Regions from separate parts of the Homo sapiens genome. Here regions 1, 3 and 4 are each reported to be linked to region 2. Evidence: microRNA targets listed by miRTarBase, many of them from high-throughput screens and not tested one by one. Region 2 holds a microRNA gene; each other region holds the end of a gene's coding sequence. Distances are between the middles of the regions.
What was found. Region 2 holds the annotated microRNA hsa-miR-548c-3p (CAAAAAUCUCAAUUACUUUUGC, at 3,186-3,207, shown strand). A microRNA usually pairs through its seed, bases 2 to 8, with sites in the 3' UTR of a target mRNA and lowers its output. Matches are read on the target gene's strand: a 7mer-m8 pairs with bases 2 to 8, a 7mer-A1 pairs with bases 2 to 7 and ends in A, and an 8mer does both.

Region 1 (5,154 bases), 57 Mb from region 2:
CACCTGAGGTCAGGAGTTTGGGACCAGCCTGACTAACATGGTGAAACTCCATCTCTACTAAAAATACAAAAAAAAAAAAAAAAAAAAAAAAAAAAAAAAAGCCAGGCTTGGTGGCAGGTGCCTGTAATCCCAGCTACTCGGGAGGCTGAGGCAGGAGAATTGCTTGACCTGGGAGATGGAGGTTGCAGTCAGCCGAGATTGTGCCATTGCACTCCAGCTTGGGTGACAAGAGTGAAACTCCATCTCAAAAAAAAATTTAAAATAAATAAATATATAGACTGTGTTGCGAAACTCTTTTTTTTTTTTTTTTTTTTAAACAGATGGAGATCTCTGTGTTGCCAAGGCTGGTCTCGAACTCCTGCCCTCAAGTGATCTTCCTATTTTGGCCTCCAGAAATGCTGTGATTACAAGCATGAGCCATCGCACTGGCTAAGACATTTTACATGACACCATTCTCACCAATAAATGGAGTTCTGAAAGGATAAACAAGAAAACATTAACAGTCGTTGATTCCGTGGAGTAGAACTAAATGAGGGGTATGCAAAGGAGTTTTTATGTGTTTTATTTTTACCCTACTGTAGATTTAAAGTTTTTATAATGGATGTTAATTGATTTTATTTAAGAAAAAAAATCGAGTCAAGGCCGGGCACAGTGGAGCACGCCTGTAATCCCAGCACTTTGGGAAGCCAAGACGGGTGGGTTACCTGAGGTCAGGAGTTCGAGACCAGCCTGACTAACATGATGAAACCCTGTCTCTACTAAATACAAAAAAATTAGCCGGGCGTGGTGGTGTATGCCTGTAATCCAAGCTACTTGGGAGGCTGAGACAGGAGAATCGCTTGTACCTGGGAAGTGGAGGTTGCAGTGAGTCAAGGTCGCACAATTGCATTCCAGTCTGGGCAACATGAGCGAAACTCTGTCTCAAAAAAAAAAAAAAGAAAAAGAAAATAAAAAAATCAATGAAGAAATTACCAACCTGTGGAAATGTTTTGAGACTGAAAGGGAAATCCATTATAGAAGCTAACGGGTTCAGTGCCTTCTGCAATTTGTCAATATATTTCTAAACATCCCCTCCAAACATGACTTTTCTCTACAAATGTGATTATACTCCTGGAAGGGCAATTTGTTGTTGTTGTTGTTTTTGTGATAGGATCTTGCTCTGTTGCCCAGGCTGGAGTGCAGTGGTGCAGTCTCGGCTCACGCAACCTCTGCCTGGGTTAAAGTGATTCTCCTGCCTCAGCCTCCCAAGTAGCTGGGATTATAGGCGTGAGCTACAGTGCCCAGGCAAGGGTGACTGTTTTCTGATGTGTGACTTGAGTCAGAGGACTAAGGTCATTTAGATTTTTTTTCTTTTTGAGATGGAGTTTCCCTCTTGTTGCCCAGACTGGAGTGCAATGGTGCGATCTTGGCTCACCACAGCCTCCGCCTCCCGGGTTCAAGTGATTCTCCTGCCTCAGCCTCCGGAGTAGCTGGGATTACAGGCATGCGCCACCACGCCTGGCTACTTTTGTATTTTTAGTAGAGACAGGGTTTCTCCATGTTGGTCAGGCTGGTCTCGAACTCCTGACCTCAGGTGATCTGCCTGCCTCGGCCTCCCAAAGTGCTGGGATTACAGGCATAAGCCACCACGCCTGGACCAATCTTTGTATTTTTTGTAGAGACTGGGTTTCATCATGTTGCCCAGGCTGATCTTGAACACCTGGACTCTACCAATTGTCTCACCTCTGCCTCACAAACTGTTGGAATTATAGGCATGGGCCACTGTGCCCGGCTTCTAATATTCTTTAAATGCTTTTCACCTTAAACTAATTTTGTTGTTTATTATTAAGAACACTGATATACTCTGCATAGCTTGCCATCACACTTAGGATAAAATTATGATTCCTGACTATGGCCTGTAAAAACCTAAAAGATCTGGTCCCTGCTAAAGTCTCCAATCTCATCTGACCACATTCCCTGACTTGCTCGTTACACGCCAAACACACCTTCTTTTGTTTCTCAGAGACAGTAAGTTTCTTACCATCTCCAGACTTATGCTCTTGCTGTTCCCACAGCTTACAATGGTCTGCTTGCAGATTTGAGAGTGGCTGCCTCCTTTGCAACATTCAGATCTCACTTCTAATGTCACCTATTCAAAAATGTTTTCTGTGACTACCTATCTGAAGTAGCCCTACACATACTCAGTCATCTGGTCATATTATTTATTTTTATTTACTTTATAGCACTCAGCATCATCTAAAATTACTATATTTATATATTGCTTCATCTCTCTACCCCCACCATAATGAGAGCTCTCTTAGTGTTGGAAACTTGTTGATCTCATTCATTGTCATAATCACATGTATTTCAACTAGTTTCTGATATACAGTAGGTACTCAATAAATATTATTGAATAAATATGGAATAAAAATTTATTGGCCTGGCGCTGTGGCTCATGCCTGTAATCCTAGCACTTTGGGAGGCTGAGGCCGGTGGATCACTTGAAGTCAGGAGTTCAAAACCAGCCTGGCCAACATGGTGAAACCCAATCTCTACTAAAAATTCAAAAAAATTAGCCAAGCATGGTGGCAGGCGCCTATAGTCCCAGCTACTTGGGAGGCTGAGGCAGGAGAATCGCTTGAACCCAGGAGGCAGAGGTTGCAGTAAGCTGAGATGGCACCACTGCAATCCAGCCTGGGTGACACAGCAAAACTCCATCTCAAAATAAATAAATAAACAAATGAATTAATTAAATTAAAATAAAGTGTATAAGTTAGTAGGGTTTGATACATTATTTCATGGGGAATTTAATATTTTTCTTTTTTTTTGAGATGGAGTTTCCCTCTTGTTGCTCAGGCTGGAGTGCAATGGTGTGATCTCAGCTCTCTGCACCCTCCGCCTCCCAGGTTCATGCAATTCTCCTGCCTCAACCTCCCCAGTAGCTGGGATTACAGGCATATGCCACCATGCCTGGCTAATTCTATATTTTTAGTAGAGATGAAGTTTCTCTGTGTTGGTCAGGCTGGTCTCGAACTCCCAACCTCAGGTGAGCCACCACGCCTCACCAATATTGTATTTTTAGTAGAGATGGTGTTTTACCATGTTGGCCAAGCTGGTCTCCAACTCCTGACCTCAGGTGATCCGCCCACCTCAGCCTCCCAAAGTGCTGAGATTACAGGCATGAGCCACCACACCCAGCCTGTGGTGGTAATTTTTGAGCTCCAGTTTCTATCCCCAACTTTTGAGACTTTCACTCTCCAACTCAAAAAAAGAACACTAGTTAGAAGATGAGAAAGCCCAGGCGCTAGTCTATAAGTGTGTTACTGTACACATCAGCCATTCTTACAGGCTTCCTGCCTATACATCTTTGGTAGTTAGATAAAATGCAGTCTTTTTACCACATTTTTGGATCACAGAAAATGACCGTGAAGCTAAGGAAGACAGGGAGAGTGGAATTTAAGATTAGCCATCAGCCCATCTTTCATTAGCCATTTCTCTAATCCAGTCCTGAATTTTCCTCTTTCCAGTAATATGTAGGGTAGCACTATGTTCAAAGCGGCCACTGGGATTTAGGTATTTTAATATCTGTACTGTGTTTCTAGATAAGTAAAAGAACCAGGTGAATTTATCAGCCCTCAGTAAACCTGGGGGAGCCAGTTTATTGAACTAGTGCTCTTAAGTAGAGGACATTTCCAACTTTGGTAAGTTTATCTCCCATTCCCTATATCACGGAGTGAGAGAAATTTGGAGAAAAGAATTTCTATTTCCTAATCTCAGTTTTTTTTTTTTTTTTAGATGGAGTTTTGCTCTTGTTGACCAGGCTGGAGTGCAATGGCGCAATCTCGGCTCGCTGCAACCTCTGCCTCCCAGGTTCAAGCGATTCTCATACCTCAGCCTCCCGAGTAGCTGGGATTATAGGCATGAGCCACCACACCTGGGTAATTTAGTTATTTTTAGTAGAGATGGGTTTTCTCCATGTTGGTCAGGCTGGTCTCCAACTCCTGACCTCAGGTGATCCACCCCCCTCGGCCTCCCAAAGTGTTGGGATAACAGGCGTGAGCCACTGCGCCTGGCCGGCTCATTTCTTTTGATCACTTACTAATATTTCATTGTGTAGATGGACCACAGTTTATCCATTCACCCTACTGAAGGACATCTTGGTAAATTTTAGCAACTGTGAATAAAACCGCTCCAGCCGGGCACGATGGCTCACGGCTGTAATCCCACCACTTAGGGAGGCCGAGGTAGATGGATCCCCGAGGTCAGGAGTAAGAGACCAGCCTGGCCAATATGGTGAAACCCTGTCTCTAATAAACATACAAAAATTAGCCGGGTGTGGTGGCGGGAGCCTGTAATGCCAGCTACTCCAGAGGCTGAGGAGGAGAATGGCTTGAACCCAGGAAGCGGAGGTTGCAGTGAGCCAAGATCGAGCCACTGCACTCCAGTTTGGACGACAGAGCTAGACTCCATCTAAAAAAAAATTTCCTAACCCCCATTGTGATGATAATAGGAGATAGGGCCTTTGGGAGGTGATTAGGCAGTAAGAGTGGCATCTTATAAATGAGATTAGTGTACTTATAAAAGAGACAGTGTAGAGCTCTCTCCCCGATTTTAGTCACCTGTGAACCAGGAAGCATGCCCTCCCCAGACAGTGAATTTGCTGGAGCCTTGATCTTGGACTTCCCAGTCACCCAGAACACGTGTTGGTGAGGATGTGGAGAAAAGAGAAAGTTTTTACATTGATGGGAAGCTAAGTTGGTGCAGTCATTATGGAAAGCAGTATGGAGATTCCTCAAAAAATTAAAAACAGAACTACTGTATAATCCAGCAATTCCAATTCTGGGTATATACCCAAAGGAAATGAAGCCAGCCCCTTGTAAAAATAACTGCATCCTGGCTGGGTGTGTTGGGAGTCCAAGGTGGGTGGATCATCTGAGGTCAGGAGTTGGAGACCAGCCTGGACATCATGGTAAAACCCTGTCTCTACTAAAAATACAAAAAAATTGGCTGGGTGCGGTGGCTTATGCCTATAATCTCAACAATTTGGGAGGCTGAGGTGAGAGGATCAGCTGAGGTCAGGAGTTCGAGACTAGCCTGGCCAACATGGTGAAAACTCCATCTCTACTAATAATACAAAAATAAGCCGGGCGTGGTGGTGCACATCTGTAATCCCAG
Region 2 (5,154 bases):
TGCAACTCTGCCTTCAGTTTAAGGACAGAAGAGGGCTCATGTTTCATAGAGTATTAAAGGAGCAAGCTTAATATTTTGCATTTTGTGGACTGTAATTGCTAACTGCTGCTACATGATTCAGTCAGCTAAGAATAATTTACTAATTATATATTGCCTCACTTGGTTCTTTTTCCAGATGCTAAACAAGGTGAGATAATTAGAGGAGGAAAAAGGGTGAGTTTGGGAATTGGAGACCAGAAGGATGGATTTAGAAGATCTTGGAGTTAACGGACTTAGAATATAGTCAGCAAAGAGTTCACTTAAAATTAGTGCAGGTTGCCAGGCGTGGTGGCTCACGCCTGTAATCCCAGCACATTGGGAGGCCAAGGCGGGCGGATCACGAGGTCGGGAGTTCAAGACTAACCTGGCCAATATAGTGAAACCCCGTCTCTACTAAAAATACAAAAATTAGGCAGGCATGGTGGTGCATGCCTGTACTCCCAGCTACTCGGTAGGCTGAGACAGGAGAATCGCTTGAACCTGGGAGGTGGAGGTTGTGGTGAGCCGAGATTGCGCCACTGCACTCCAGCTTGGGCAACAGAGTGAGACTTTATATCAAAAAAAAAAAAAAAAGAAATTAGTGCAGGTTGACTGTGTGTGTGTGTGTGTGTGTGTAGTTTTCTGAATTCATTTTTCAAGTATTGAATATTCACAATGATGCTAGACTAAGTGCTAGAGATTTGGTGGTGAACGAAACAGATTGAAACCTGCCTTCATGGGGGGCGTATATAGGTTCGTCTGACTAGTCTAGATAAGTGAATTTGTGTAGTAATTGTTTTTTTGTAACTGGCTTAGTTTACTTAGCTTGATGTCATCAAGATTTATTCATGTTGGAGTATGTGTCAGAATTTCCTTCCTTTTAAAGGCTGAATAATATATCCATTGTATGTATATATCACTTTTTGTTTATCCATTGATTCTTCCATAGACATTAGGATTGCTTCCACCTTTTGGCTCATGTGAATAATGATGCTGTGAACAGGGGTGTACAAATATCTCTTAAAGACCCCTCTTAAAACTTTTTGCGATATATACCCATAAGTAACAGTTGCTATAGAATCATATGGTAATTCTGTTTTTAATTTTTTGAGGAATACTATACTGACAAATTTGAATCCTTATTTAAACCCAGGATTATGGAATACTGCTGCTTGATTTCAGCTGTCATTTTGTTGTCTACATTGTATTTTATTGAATTGGCGTTATTCCCAAATATTGGAAAATGTGGAGGTTTCTAATTTTTGCTACTGTAAATAGCACTAATAAATACCTTGAGCATGAAACCTTTTCCATTATGGATTAATTTTATAGGATAGTTGTACAAAAATGGAATTTTACTAATTATGAGGGTGTGACTTTTTATGATTCTAGTTATATATTGCCAATTTATGTCTATTTTTAAGTTTCATTACACCCTTACTTCCATTGGATATAGTCATTAAAATAGAGAAAAAAAACTTCAATAACTAAAGGCACCTTATTGCTATTTAATTTACATTCCTTTATTATTATTTTTTAAATTATTATTTTTTGAGGTGGAGTTTTACTCGTCACCCAGGCTGGAGTGTAATGGCGCGATCTTGGCTTACTGCAACCTCCGCCTCCCAGGTTCAAGAGATTCTCCTGCCTCAGCCTCCCAAGTAGCTGGGATTACAGGCGCCTGCCACTACGCCCTGCTAATTTTTGTATTTTTAGTAGAGATGGGGTTTCACCATGTTGGCCAGGCTGGTCTCAAACTCCTGACCTCAGGTGGTCCACCCACCTCGGCCTCCCAAAGTGCTGAGATTACAGACGTGAGGCACTGCGCCTGGCACATTCCTTTAATTAACTGTGAATTTAATACTTTTTAAATACTTCTGAGTAAATCTCCCTTGTGTGAGAATTGTCCATGCATGACCTTTGCCCATTTGTCTATTAGGTAGGCAAAATCTTGAGAGAGCACTGCTTGAGTCTGTGCATTTTTAGCTTGGTAGATGGTTCTGCTTTTTTGAGGTCAGCTGAACTTCAGGGTTTTTTTTGACTTACACTGTTTGTACCAAAAGGATATTACATATTCAGGCTTTCATTTTTTTAAGATGGAGTTTCGGTCATGTTGCCCAGGCTGGAGAGCAATGGTGCGAACTTGGCTCACTGCAACCTCCGCCTCCCAGGTTCAAGTGATTCTCCTGCTTCATCCTCCCAAGTAGCTGGGATTATGGGCATGCGCCACTATGCGCGGCTAATTTTTGTATTTTTAGTAGAGACAGGATTGATCAGGCTGGATGGTCTCGAACTCCTGATCTCCGGTAATCTACCCGCCTGGGCCTCCCAAAGTGCTGGGATTATAGGCGTGAGCCACCGTGCCCGGCCCAGGCATTTTGAAATACTTCAGAATGTGTTTCAGGCTGACATCACTGAAACTCAGAAAAATACTTATTACTCCTGTAGTTACAACATGGGAAAGGCATTGCTAAGAAAGCATCACCATAAATAAACCCGTGGGATTCAGAAGGTGGGGAGTTGGGTGATGTGTTTTCTACTAACCATGTGTTTTAAAAAAAAGGGTGACTAGAAGTTCCTGTTTATCTTTGAATTTCAATAAATTTAGGGCTTGTTTTCCAACCACTCTGGTAGAATTTAGAAGAACCTAACTTATTTATTTTTATCTTTTTGACAGTCTTGCTCTGTCACCAGGCTGGAGTGCAGTGGCGCGATCTTGGCTCACTGCAATCTCTGCCTCCCAGATTCAAGCTATTTTCCTGCCTCAGCCTCCTGAGTAGTTGGGATTACAGGCATGCACCACCATGTCCAGCTATTTTTTTTTTTTTTTTTGTATTTTTAGTAGAGTCAGGGTTTCACCATGTTGGTCAGGCTGGTGTCAAACTCCTGAGCTCGTTATCCGCCTGCCTTGGCCTCCCAAAGTGTTGGGATTACAGGTGTGAGCCACCGTGCCTGGCCAGTCCTAACTTATTTTGTAAGTATACTAGGTATTGAAAAAAGGATGGTAGGACAAACTGCTGGAAACCTTACCCACCAAAGATAATTTATACTGTTTACTTATAGGCTTACTGTCTTTTGTTGAAAAATTGCGATGAGAAAGGAATCGGCATTGGCATCTATTAGGTTGGTGCAAAAGTAATTGCGGTTTTTGCCATTACTTTCAGTAGCAAAAATCTCAATTACTTTTGCACCAACTTAATACTTTCAGGCTTGTTGAAGCCTAAGTAGAAAATTGTTGCTTAATCTCTTTTATTCTGATTAACTCCTACTTTAAATTTTTTCTTTCAGAATCTTTTTATCAAGTGAATCTTTTAAAAAGATGTGAAGAGTTACTTCTGACTTTATGATTGATAGATTATGAGCCCTCCTTAATCCCCAATTTCTTAATTCAAACAAGCTTACTGTGAAAATTTTCTTTTTTCTTTCTTTTTTTTTTTGAGATGGAGTCTTGCTCTGTTGCCCAGGCTGTAGTACAGTGGCACGATCTTGGCTCACTGCAACCTCCATCTCCTGAGTTCAAGTGATTCTTCAGTCTCAGCCTCCCCAGTAGCTGGGAATACAGGCGCATACCACCATGCCCAGCTAATTTTTGTATTTTTAGTAGAGACGGGGTTTCACCATGTTGGTCAGGCTGGTCTCGAACCCCTGACCTCAGGTGATCCGCCTGCCTCGGCCTCCCTGAGTGCTGAGATTATAAGCATGAGCCACCGCGCCCGGCCACCGTGAAAATTTTCTACAAATGCTTGTTTCGAGGAATCTTTTTTGATATTTTGCCAGCAAAGTCATAGGAGCAAAATTTTTTTAAATGAAAATAGAAAACAACATAGTTAAATATATCACGTAGGAGGAAAAGTACCAGTACCAAAATTAACTTTAGCATTTCTTAGTGTTTTACAGTTAACAGGGCATTCCAAGGGAATTAAAATTCAGTTGATTTTATTGGACTTTAATTTCAGAGGAACTCTGAGATGAGAAATTTAACTAGCACGTTTATCCGTTTAGGCCTTAAGCAGATGCAGGTTTCATGACATGCCAGAGGTAAATTTAGGGGTACTTGACTGTAGTGAGTAATTTCCCAGCTATGGGAAAATGTAAATATTATGTAGATGGTATAAAGAAACAATATTACGTTTGTCCATTTAAGGTCTGTTTCTGTTTGTTCAGACAGGCTTGTGGATTGCTTTTCTTGCCAGTGTTCCTTTAGGTGGAAGGTACAGCCCTTTCAGATATTTCAGAATTTTATTTTCTTTTATTTTTTTGAGATGGAGTCTCACTCTGTCACCCAGGCTGGAGTGCAGTGGCACGATCTCGGCTCACTGCAGCTTCTGCTTCCCAGGTTCAAGAAATTCTCATGCCTCAGCTTCCCGAGTAGCTGGGATTGCCAGCACCCGCCACCATGCCTGGCTAATTTTTATTTTTATTTTTTTAGTAGAGAGAGAGTTTCACCGTGTTGGCCAGACTGGCCTCAAACTTCTGGCCTCAACCGATCTGCCCGCCTCTGCCTCCCAAAGTGTTGGGATTACAGGGGTGAGCCACCATGTCCGGCCATATTTCTGTTTTAGAATTGCTTTCTTGCTTTTCCTCTGACCAGATTTGGTCACGTGAAACTGTCAATTAGCATGAATGAGGTGCTGCTGCCATGCAGGGGTTTGATCCTTGGCTGTCATGTTGATGGTCTCTGTATCCAAATTAGTATTTGTGAAATTTGGGGGAAGAGAATTTGGGCTTATTGTGTAGCGGAACGAGTACGTTTCATAAAGGCAAACCTAGCACCGATATCAACAAATCCACTTACAATCCATTCCTAAAGGAGGAAGCTCTGTTACAGTTTTAAAATTAACATTACAATGCATCTTGCTTGTTTGAGGTGAGGGCTTAAAACTCAGTAATGAAAAAGAGGGAGAACTATAGGCTAAAAGGGTGTGTGTTCTTAATTGATTAATTGCAAGCAGCTATGTAGGGCACCCTGTGTTTAAATCAGTGCTAGCTGTATTATCTTGAGCAAGTCATTGTACCTCTTTGTTTTTTTAATTTATTTTTATTTTTTACATTTTTAAGAGACAGGGTCTCACTATGTTGCTCAGTTTGGTCTTGAACTCCTGGGCTCAAGTGATCCTCCTGCCTTGGCCTCCCAAA
Region 3 (5,153 bases), not on the chromosome of region 2:
AATTAAAACGACAGCTAAAAATACCAAGTACTGGCAAGGATGTGGAATACTCTGACCCCCCCAACACACATTGCTGTTGGGAATGTAAAATTTCAGCAAATTCTGAAAACAGTTTAGCAGTTTCTTATACAAACACACTTACTATAATACAACAACCTTAATCTTAGGTATTTACCCAAGACAAATGAAAACATATAACCACACAAAGACTTATATACATATGTTCATAGCAGCTTTATTCATAACAGCAAAAAAACTGAAAACAACTCAAATGTCCATCAACTGGTAAATGAATTAACAAACTGTGGTATAACTATACAATGCAAATACTACTGAATAGAAGATAAAACAGGAACTACCTACTAATACATGTAACAATATCAGTATCTCAAAAGTATTACATTAAGTGAAAGAAGCTGGACACAAAAGACTGGTTATTTGAAATTCTAGAAAAGGCAAAACGAAAAGTGACAAAACGCAGATCAATGGGTTTCGAGGGGATAGAAGTGGGGGTGAGGGATTGACTACAAAGGGGTAAAAGGGAAATTTTTAGGTGATACAAATGTTCTATATCAGCTGGGTGTGGTGGTTCACGCCTGTAATCCCAGCACTTTGGGAGGCCGAGGCAGGTGGATCATGAGGTCAGGAGTTCGAGACCAGCCTGGCCAACATGGTGAAACCCCATCTCTACTAAAAATACAAAAGTTAGCCGGGCATGGCGGCGCGTGCCTGTAATCCCAGCTACTCAGGAGGCTGAGGCCAGAGAATTGCTTGAACCCGGGCAGACGAAGGTTGCAGTGAGCCGAGATTGCGCCATTGCATTCCAGCCTGGGTGACAGTGCGAAACTCCATCTCTGGGGAAAAAAAAGTTCTGTATCAAGATTGTGGTGGTGGTAATTACACTACTATATGTTTGACAAAATTCACTGAATCATATACTTAAATTGGTTAATTTTATTGTATATAATATCTTAAAATTTATTATATATAAAATAATACCTAAAGTTTATATATATCAAAATGGAACAATGGTAACATGATTTACTTTGCTACATTTCCAAATATTGTCCAGGGAGGATGTATTATTTTAAAATCAGAACAAAAATCCCATTTAAAAGCAATTAGCATATTAAAAATATATAAGTATACATGATCACAATGACTTATAAATAAATACAAACTCAGAGCTAAGAACAGAAGGAAATTTACCACTATTTATTTTGGGTAAAGGAGTACTAAAATTCCTCCTAAAGCTTTTGTATAATTCATAACTTTTAGGGGAGGACTTTGTTTTAAAAATGCAGTAATAGAGAATGCCTTGCAACAATTGGTGTAAGTTTATCTAGAGCTTTTGCCCAAATTAATTAATTGGGAAGGCATCACATGTGCTCACTGTTCAACGATGCTTTTGAAAGATTATTCAGTAGTTTAATTTCTTTTGTTTTTTTCCTGAAAGTTTCTGTTTCAGGTTTTTTTTTTAAGAGTTATTCTCTGCATTACTCAAAATGATGAATCAAACAGATTTTCCTTCTTAATTTAATGTCTTATTCTTTAAAATCCACTAAAGAACAAACAGTTCTTAGACCTGGAATGTATTTTCTACTCAGTAATGCCCTATTTTGTAAACAAAAGAAACAGAATGTAAGTAGCACCTTGGATTAAAATGTCCAACCTAATCAGCTGTGCAGAAGACATAAATTGGAGGTAACAATAACTGCTTTAATCTCTGTGAATGCCTCATCAATTAAATAATTCCTCAGGAACATTTTCCCCATTCATATGGGAATTACATACTGGTTTGCAAACACAGAACCAACTAATAATCTTTTTTACAGAATCTCTAAATCCTTTCTTCCAAGACCATTTTGGCCAACTGACTGGATTTAAACTGGATAATAAAAGTAAGGGAAAAAAAAGCACAAACAGAAACTCTTACAGAGCAAGAAAGACCAGATGGTCACCTCGACGTTAGAGGCAAAACCAGTATGCTCTAATATTGTGACATGACTCTAATGCCAGCATTCAATGACAGACAGATCACTTTTAGAAGAACAGCCAAGATAAAGGATTTGAGACATAACAGGTAACACACATTCCCAGGATTGGGAGCAGTACCTGAACAAGTGCTGTTAATGGATCACTGTAGCATTATCAATACATCCCAGTCATTGTATGATACTATTAACTCTTTCGGTTTCCTTGCATTTATTGGAAGGCACATTAAAATTTGCATTCTTTGGAGTGCAGCAAGATGCTTTTCCTGTTTCTTTCTGCAGCATGTCCAGCACTTTTACACCTTCTGTCAGACAAATAGGTTAAAACTCTTACATTGCAAAATCAAGAGTATAATACTCAGTGATGGATAGTGTATGTTTCTGATTAATACCCTTTTTGCCAAGTTAAAAATACCCTACTAGGGACCGGGTGCAGTGGCTCATACCTGTAATGTCAGCACTTTGGGAAGCCAAGGCGGGCAGACTGCTTGAGCACAGGAGTTTTGAGACCAGCCTGGGCAACATGGTGAAACGGTGTCTCTACAAAAAATACAGAAATTAGCTGGGTGTGGTGATGCATGCCTATAGTCCCAGCTATTTGGGAGGCTGAGGCAGAAGGATCACTTGAACCCAGGAAGTCGAGGCTGCAGTGAACCAAGATCACACCACTGCACTCCAGCCTGGGTGACAGGGCAAGACACTGTCTCCAAAAAACAAAAAACAAAACAAAACAAAACAAAAAACCAACAAAAAACTAACAATATCCTATTAAAAGTGGCTTAAACAATTGAAGGGTTTTTATTATATCAACATAAGTCCACATGTAAAGCAGCTCTAGAATGGGTTAATTCTGAAGCTTACCGGCATTATCAAAGGCTCTGGTGAGTTCTATCTTTCCACTGAGCTAACCTCAGTCTGAGTCCGTGTCTCCTTGTGATCATTAGTTGGCTGCAGCAGTTCCAACTATCAGAGTCAGAAAAGACAATGTCCAGAGAGAGCAGGATTTCCTCCTCTAAGCCTATTAGTGAGTAAAACATTTTTCAGACACCCCCTTGAAGATCACTTCTCAGCTGCCATTCACTAGGACATGTTTATGTACTCATGCCTTATCAATTACTTATAAGGGGGATAAGACCACATGTGATTCATTTAGAACAGCAGGATTCACCCTTAGGGAAAGGGTCCAACATACCTGGACACAGAGCTGCACAGAAGGGAACACCAGAATAAGCAAGCAAGAAGGGAGGGACAAAATAGTTGCTGGCCGGCAACCAACAGTATTTATCACAATCTGATAGGGCTGAAAATGTACAGCATGTGTTGTTACACTATTCCTTGGCGAAGAAGATAAGTAGCAATAAAATAAAAAGTGTAATATAATAGATTGTTAGACATTTACGAAAATATTTCAGGGACAAATAACAACTAAGATTCAGAGAGTACAGGCACTAGCCTATGTGCTTTACATGTATTAATGTACTTCATCCTCACAACTGTTACATGTACAGTTGTCCCTCAGTATCTGTGGGGGACTGGTTTCCAACCCCAACCCCTCAAATACCTAAATCCATGGATGCTCAAGTCTTTTATAATAAAATGGCGTAGTATTTGCATGTTACCTAGGCACAACCTCCCATATTCTTTAAGTCATCTCTAGATTATTTATAATACCTAATACAATGTAAATACTATATAAATAGCTGTTAAACTGTATTGTTTAGGGAATGACAAGGAAAAAAGTCTGCACATGTTCAGTATAGACACAACCATCCTTTTTTTCCCCAAATATCTTCTATCCACAGTTGTTTGAATCCACAGATGTGGAATGCATGGATATGAAGGGCCAACTGTATCTTACAAGATAAGGAAAAAGGAGAGAAGCCAAGACACTGACTAACTGACAGAGCTGAGACTGGAACTGAGGTAATCAGGCTCCAGACCGTGCTCTCAATTGCTGTATTATGAGGCACAGGGTGATATAAAAAGGGCACGTGTTTTAAAAATAGTAAAAATATCAAATGAACCAAGCCATAGGTGAAAATGTAGAAACCAATCCAAGAGGTTGGCTGAGATTTAACATTGTACATTTTATTAAATACTGGACTTTATTACAACAAATTAATTTACTTCCGATAGAAGTTTCATTTTAAAAAATGTGGTTGTGTTCAAATTCTTAATTGACACTTGTTTTGGGGTAAACATCCTATTTTTACTGGTGGTATCATCAATCATTATGAGCAGAAAGATTAATTTTGTATAACAGAACAAAGGAATTTCTCAAGTGGTACAATACTCAATATATATAAAGGGAATATACTCCCAAAGAGTGGGCATGACCACAGCAGAGTATATGATCAGAGAACATATTGCTTTTATGGTATATATATATATATATATATATCTCTACATATAACATCAAGTCATGCACATTAAGTCTTTACTACCTACTGAAGGCTTCTACCTTACACATGAAAATTGTTCATGTCCCAGGGTTTGGCATCCAGCCAAAATTTAAACAATGATGAAGAATGGCTGTCAAACTGGCTTTTCAGACCACCCCTGAAAAGCTGTCAGCTGTAATATCCATCCTGGAATCGTGGCGGAAAGTTCCTGGGAGTTGCCTTTTCCTGTGTTTTGATCAAGTCTATAATAGCTGACAGTACTGCACAGTCTCTGGATTTAGTGTCATTCCAGTCTACAGGATGAGGACTTTCAATCTTCTCTTGCAGAAGAATATCTAGTTCCTTTCTTAATTCCTAAGGTTGGAAAAATTATACATGTTCAACAAAGGCAGATATATTACCAAATAACATAATAAATGAAACTAATTTACCTGATACAAGGAGTTTCACAAGCGATGGCTCAAAAGCTAAAACATTTAGTGAGCAATCAACTAAAGTGTGGTTATGAGTGAATAACTAAAGTGCAGTTAAAATTCACACTGCAATCACACTGAGCCATTTAGAATGGCTGGTCTGTTACCACCTCAAAACACAATTCAGAAAAACCAGGAATCATTTTTTCAAAATTATTTGCTCTGCTGAAATAGAGCAAGAAATGTTAATCTATTTAACAGTTAGAACAAAACCACATGACCACATGCTGACTTACATGTAGATTTAAGATAATCACATAAAGTCAGTCACCTTAACAAGATGG
Region 4 (5,154 bases), not on the chromosome of region 2:
GGACTTAAAAGTCTTATAGCTTGGTGGAGGATGATTACTTAGTCTGAGACAGAGACAAATTTAATACTTTTCAAAGTCTGTGTTTATGTTAATAATTTAGTTCAGAAGAATTCTTAAAAATCAAAAATATAACTGCCTGTCCATTTTTTTAATTGATTTTCATTTCTTCATATTGCAGTTATCAAATTCAGCCTGTGGCTCATTCCCAGCTCTTCTTTCTCTCCAGGTGAATCACATTGTTTTTGAAAACAATCAGCAATTATTATGCTTGGAAGGAAATTTTTCTCAAAAGATCCTGAAAGTAGCTGCCTGTGACCCAGTGAAGCCATATCAAAAGTGGAAATTTGAAAAATATTATGAAGCCTGAAGTGTAACTGATGTTTTTATATAGTAAACCCATTAAATACTGTGAAAATAACACTGAACTTGGAAACTATATTTCTCAGCGGTAGTTTAAATTTTCAATTTTAATAACATTTGAATGGAAGATTTTTTATAAATCACAATATTTGGAATACCAAAAGATGACTCAGGAAAACAGTCCAACATTGGACTGAAGTCCTTCTTCGGAACTGGGTGGCCTTTGAATTGCCTGCTTTCCACCCTATGCTAGACCTCATCATGCAAATTTCCCTGTGAAAGCTAACAGGTAACTGGAAATGAAGACAGAAGGACTTGAGAAAGCATGAGGATATTCCCAATGACTATGTTTGGTAATAATCAGCTCTTCTGGCCCACAAGTAGGAATGATCAATGAGAACTTAACTTAGTCCTTTATTTGGGGATTTTTTCATCAAACAAAAATTTCTTGAGTTCTTATGGCTAGAAGACCTCAGATGCCCACAGCTGTCACGTTTGTGAAATCCCTCCAGACTACATGCATGCTTACCTAACAGTTTGAAATAGTATTGATCTACTGCTGGTAACCCTGCTTGATGGCAGCATTTTGATCTAAATTACATAATGGTTTTTCCCAATCTGAATCAGTGGAAAAAAATTTAAGTGAGGAAGAAGAGGCCTTCAAATGCTTATTTAATTCTAGGTATGAACACTATTTCAGTTCATTTTGTGCTTTTAAAACTACAGTTTTAAAGATTTATGATACCAATAACTTCCTAGATTCATGTGGATTTTTTTTAAGGCAATGAAAAAAGGCTGGATTATAACACACTGTAGTAATCAAAAATGCATTTAAGCATTGAATGCACTCTAGTGCAGGGCCAAGTAAGAGGAGTTGAAATGAGTAAAGCAGAAATAGAGCTGCTGAAAGTTTCTTTTATATAAAAATAATAAAATACTACTTTAGATATAGTAGCATTCACAGGGATGAAATATGCGAAAAATGGGTTCTAAAATATTTCAAAGGGAAAATGAAGTGAAGGAAACATCATGAAAGGGGAAAGGAATGAGGTAAACAAGTCTTAGGAAGAGAGTTAAGAAAAAATTCCGCTGGACTTGGCCAAAGAAAGAAGGGGATCTAGTATCTCTATGAAGGAAAAAAGAGTAAAGCCCTCAGTGTGAACCCAGTGAGAACACTGACAAATTTGGGAAAAGTTAAATACTGATTTCATCCAAATAAAGCCTCTAATCTTAAGCATACCAATACTTTGGCATACCAGAAGACACCTTAGAAATCAGGATAGCCTTTGCATTCATTTTGGTAAGAAAACTGATGCTGAGAGGATAAATTACCTAAAAATCTTAAAACCCAGGCAAGTTAGTCAAAGAATCAAGATTAGAATTCAGGTTTCCAGAGACAGGGCTCATTCTAATGCCTCAGGTCACTGGCCCGAACAAATCTGCTTCACAGAATTCCTTAGAAAGAGATACACAATTCTTTGCTGGGATTGGGTCCCTGGAGGACAACCATACTATATTCTTGTTAATATGTTTTTTCTTTTTTTAAATTTAAACTTTTGTTCAGTTGAGATGATTGTGAAACTAGGTATCTTTCATTCTGACTCCTAGTTTAACATTTAATTTTGACTCCCAATGAGTTACGTAAAAGCAAAACTATAACTAAGAATGGGAAAAAGAACTATTTCTGCACATTTGTAACATATTTAAGATGTTTTCTTCATATAATTGAAAACTGCAGATGAGTAAGAGAATGACTAGGAAATGAGATACAGTTATATGACACATAATGATGTTTTAGTCAACAATGAACCACATATTTGACATTGGTCCCAAAAGATTATATTAATAATATGGTATCTTTAGTGTGCTTTTCTATGTTTAGACACACAAATACTCACCATGATGTTACAATAGCCTACAGTGTTCAATACAGTAACATGCACAAGTTTGTAACCTAGGAGCAACAGGGATTCCATATAGCCTAGGTGTGTAGTAGGCTACCTACACCATCTAGGTTTGTGTAAGTACACTCTGATATTCACACAATGATGAAATTGCCTAATGACACATTTCTCAGAATGTATTTGTGTTATTAAATGATGCATGACTCTAATTCTTTTCAAAACAGAGCCATATGGGGCAAGGGGGATGGGGGGACGCAAGTCAGTTGTCAAAAGACTAATTGAGTTACTGACAAACTGAACATGCTAGGTGCCTCATGTAATTCTTCATGTAACTAAAAAATGTTGAGAGGTTTTTTTCCCCCGGGTATATAGGCTCTCTTTTTATCCGAAAATAGTTTCCACAAAGAAGTCAACTCTGTTCTGAAAAAAAATGAATTGCATTTTGAATACACTTATCTTTGGGTATATCAACTAAAGGAAGTTGGATTTTTTTCCTTAACAGAAACTTCTGCAGTCCTCTCAGTTCACATCCTTTCTGACTTTACCCTGACAAACTTATTATATAAAGCTATATTTAAATCTATATTGTCAATATAACAAAGGATTGTTTTTGAACATCACAAATTTGTTCTTGGATAGAATTTTATACATTGCTTTTCATCATATATTTGCTCAGTTACTCTAAGAAGCAAGGAACTGATCACTAGTTGGGAATCTATATGGGCCTAAACTTGAGTGTATTGATTTATTATTACATCTACTACCAACATTTTCTTAAGCATAGCCTTCTAAATTTTTTCAGGAGATTAGAATAAAGGTATACATGCTACTCGGTCTTCTGGTAATTCTAGTGATAAACCTTTGGATGAGACAGGTCCTAATCAGCACTGAATTCTTCAATAGGAGGCTGTGTTACAGGAGCTACAGATTTTTCCCTGGATTAGCTTAGGTCATTGCCTTTACTTTAAAAAAAAAAAAAAAAAGTCTATGCATCTTGTTACCTTGAATACAAGGGTGGTCTTGATAATATTTGACAGCACTAACCAACTTACCAAGCCATCTAAGTGCTTCTGAGACTTTTCAGTTTGCACAATTTCTTTCTCCTTTTCAACAGTTACCCAGCGCTTCTGCCCTACTCTCTTGTAAGCTGACACAGTTGTTGTTGGTACAATCTTGTTCTATCACCAGCATCAAATTTGCTTAATACTGCTTGTTGACATCCCCTCAGCTGTCATTCACAGCAAACCACCATGTGCCATGATCACAATGTATTATTAGCTTCGCCACACTAATTTGGAAACATTCTTTTAGATATTAAAACACCTTACTTCTAGTATTAGTTTGGGACTGCAGAGGGGCAAAGATACCATTTACAGTATATAGGAGTCCAATATTCCCAACCAACCTTGATTTCATGAATGGCTTGTAATTATTTCTAGCAGGCACTCATGCAATAGAATAAGATTGAAACATGCCAGAGAGTACCATCTTTCTTTGTTTTAACATCTCTGATTGAATTCCTATATTCAGAATACAAGAAAAAAAATTTACCAACCAGGCGCAGTGGCTCACACCTGTAATCCTAGCACTTTAGGAGGCCAAGGTGGGTGGATCATGAGGTCAGGAGTTCAAGACCAGCCTGGGCAACATGGTGAAACCCCGTCTCTACTAAAAATACAAAAATTAGCTGGGCATGGTGGTGGGCGCCTGTAATCCCAGCTACCTGGGAGGCTGAAGCAGGAGAATTGCTTGTACCCGGGAGGTGGAGGTTGCAGTGAGCTGAAATTGCGCCACTGCACTCCAGCCTAGACAACAGAGCAAGACTCTATCTCAAAAAATAATAATAATAATTTTTACCTCAGAAGAAAGCCCCAAAATCTTGGATTAAAACAAAAAAATGACATTGGGTGATGGGAAAAAAGAAAGGAACTAATTATCATTGAGTGTGTGTAGGTACTATTTGTGTAGGTGCTATATGTGTCCCATCTCACTGATGGGTACAACTCATCAAATGACTCTCATTCTCCCTGTTATATGAACAAGAAGGATAACTCCCACATACAGATGAGGAATTTGGTAAATTGCCCAAGGTCATCCCACAAGTAAGAGATAAAACCCAGTTTCCATTTTATCTGGCTCAAAAAAAATTTCTCTCACTATACCATGCTGCTATATAATTAATTTTCTTCTTTACAAAGGGCTGTCATCTCAGGTGGGTGCATTTAAAAGTTTCTTGGTCTCAGATTACTGATGCCACAGTATTGAGATGAGATTGAATTAAACCCCTTTGGCCTCTTTTGGATGTTGTATAAACAGAAAAAAGAAGCATGGTCTCTCTCTCTCTGTGGTAACCAATTGATGTGTAGGTATAAACATGGCTACCCCCACATGTTTTGCTGTGATCTATCTCTTTGACTTCATGCAGAACCTATTCTTTTTCATCTCCTGGACCAAATGTGAAAGAAAGAAGTGGACATGTGGAGGATTCTTTCTCTGTGAATAATATTGAAAAAGCTCCATTTTCTGGGGAAATACCCATGGTTCATTGTCTGATGCCAAGAAAGAATTCAGGACACAGACACACATGAGGAGTGGGTTTAGGAGTGGAAAGTTTAATAGATAAAGAAGAGAGTGAGAAAGCTTCCTCATGTTGAGAAAGACAGTTGCTCAAGAGAGGGTTTTCTGGGTTTGGGGCAAGATTTGATTGATTTCATACAGAGGCTTGAGGAGGCGGTGATTGATATACATAGGGCCCGGGGATTGGTTTAACCAGGTATACTACTTACATAGCCGGTGAAAAGACTGGCCCTCCCACCCTAACCTTTTATTATGCAAATGCATCTTCTACCTGGCTGTCACCATGACATTTGCACACGTGGCTTCACTTCAC

Region 1: the mRNA of NANOGNB is a reported target of hsa-miR-548c-3p. Seed matches in the 3' UTR shown: 7mer-A1 at 564-570.
Region 3: miRTarBase lists DHX36 as a target of hsa-miR-548c-3p. Seed matches in the 3' UTR shown: 7mer-A1 at 4,001-4,007, 7mer-A1 at 3,992-3,998, 7mer-A1 at 2,401-2,407, 7mer-A1 at 1,294-1,300, 7mer-A1 at 1,131-1,137 and 7mer-m8 at 1,101-1,107.
Region 4: miRTarBase lists GALNT5 as a target of hsa-miR-548c-3p. Seed matches in the 3' UTR shown: 7mer-m8 at 488-494, 7mer-m8 at 784-790, 7mer-m8 at 1,129-1,135, 7mer-m8 at 2,749-2,755, 7mer-m8 at 3,191-3,197 and 7mer-A1 at 4,114-4,120.

What each region holds. Positions count from the first base shown.
Region 1 is chr12:7,773,480-7,778,633 of GRCh38, forward strand. NANOGNB (NANOG neighbor homeobox) reads left to right here. Exons shown (of 4, transcript NM_001145465.1): 4 at 321-642. The coding sequence ends at 372. Among named protein-coding and RNA genes, the nearest start is that of NANOGNB, 11 kb to the left of the region's middle.
Region 2 is chr12:64,619,384-64,624,537 of GRCh38, forward strand. MIR548C (microRNA 548c) reads left to right here and starts at 3,126; the gene lies at 3,126-3,222. The region is part of intron 1 of RASSF3 (Ras association domain family member 3); the gene reads left to right. It overlaps MIR548Z (microRNA 548z), which reads right to left and starts at 3,222; the gene lies at 3,126-3,222. RefSeq lists an enhancer at 2,048-2,207.
Region 3 is chr3:154,271,607-154,276,759 of GRCh38, forward strand. DHX36 (DEAH-box helicase 36) reads right to left here. Exons shown (of 25, transcript NM_020865.3): 24 at 5,141-5,153; 25 at 940-4,750. The coding sequence ends at 4,565. Among named protein-coding and RNA genes, the nearest start is that of DHX36, 50 kb to the right of the region's middle.
Region 4 is chr2:157,310,982-157,316,135 of GRCh38, forward strand. It overlaps GALNT5 (polypeptide N-acetylgalactosaminyltransferase 5), which reads left to right. Exons shown (of 10, transcript NM_014568.3): 10 at 227-5,154. The coding sequence ends at 367. Among named protein-coding and RNA genes, the nearest start is that of ERMN, 12 kb to the right of the region's middle.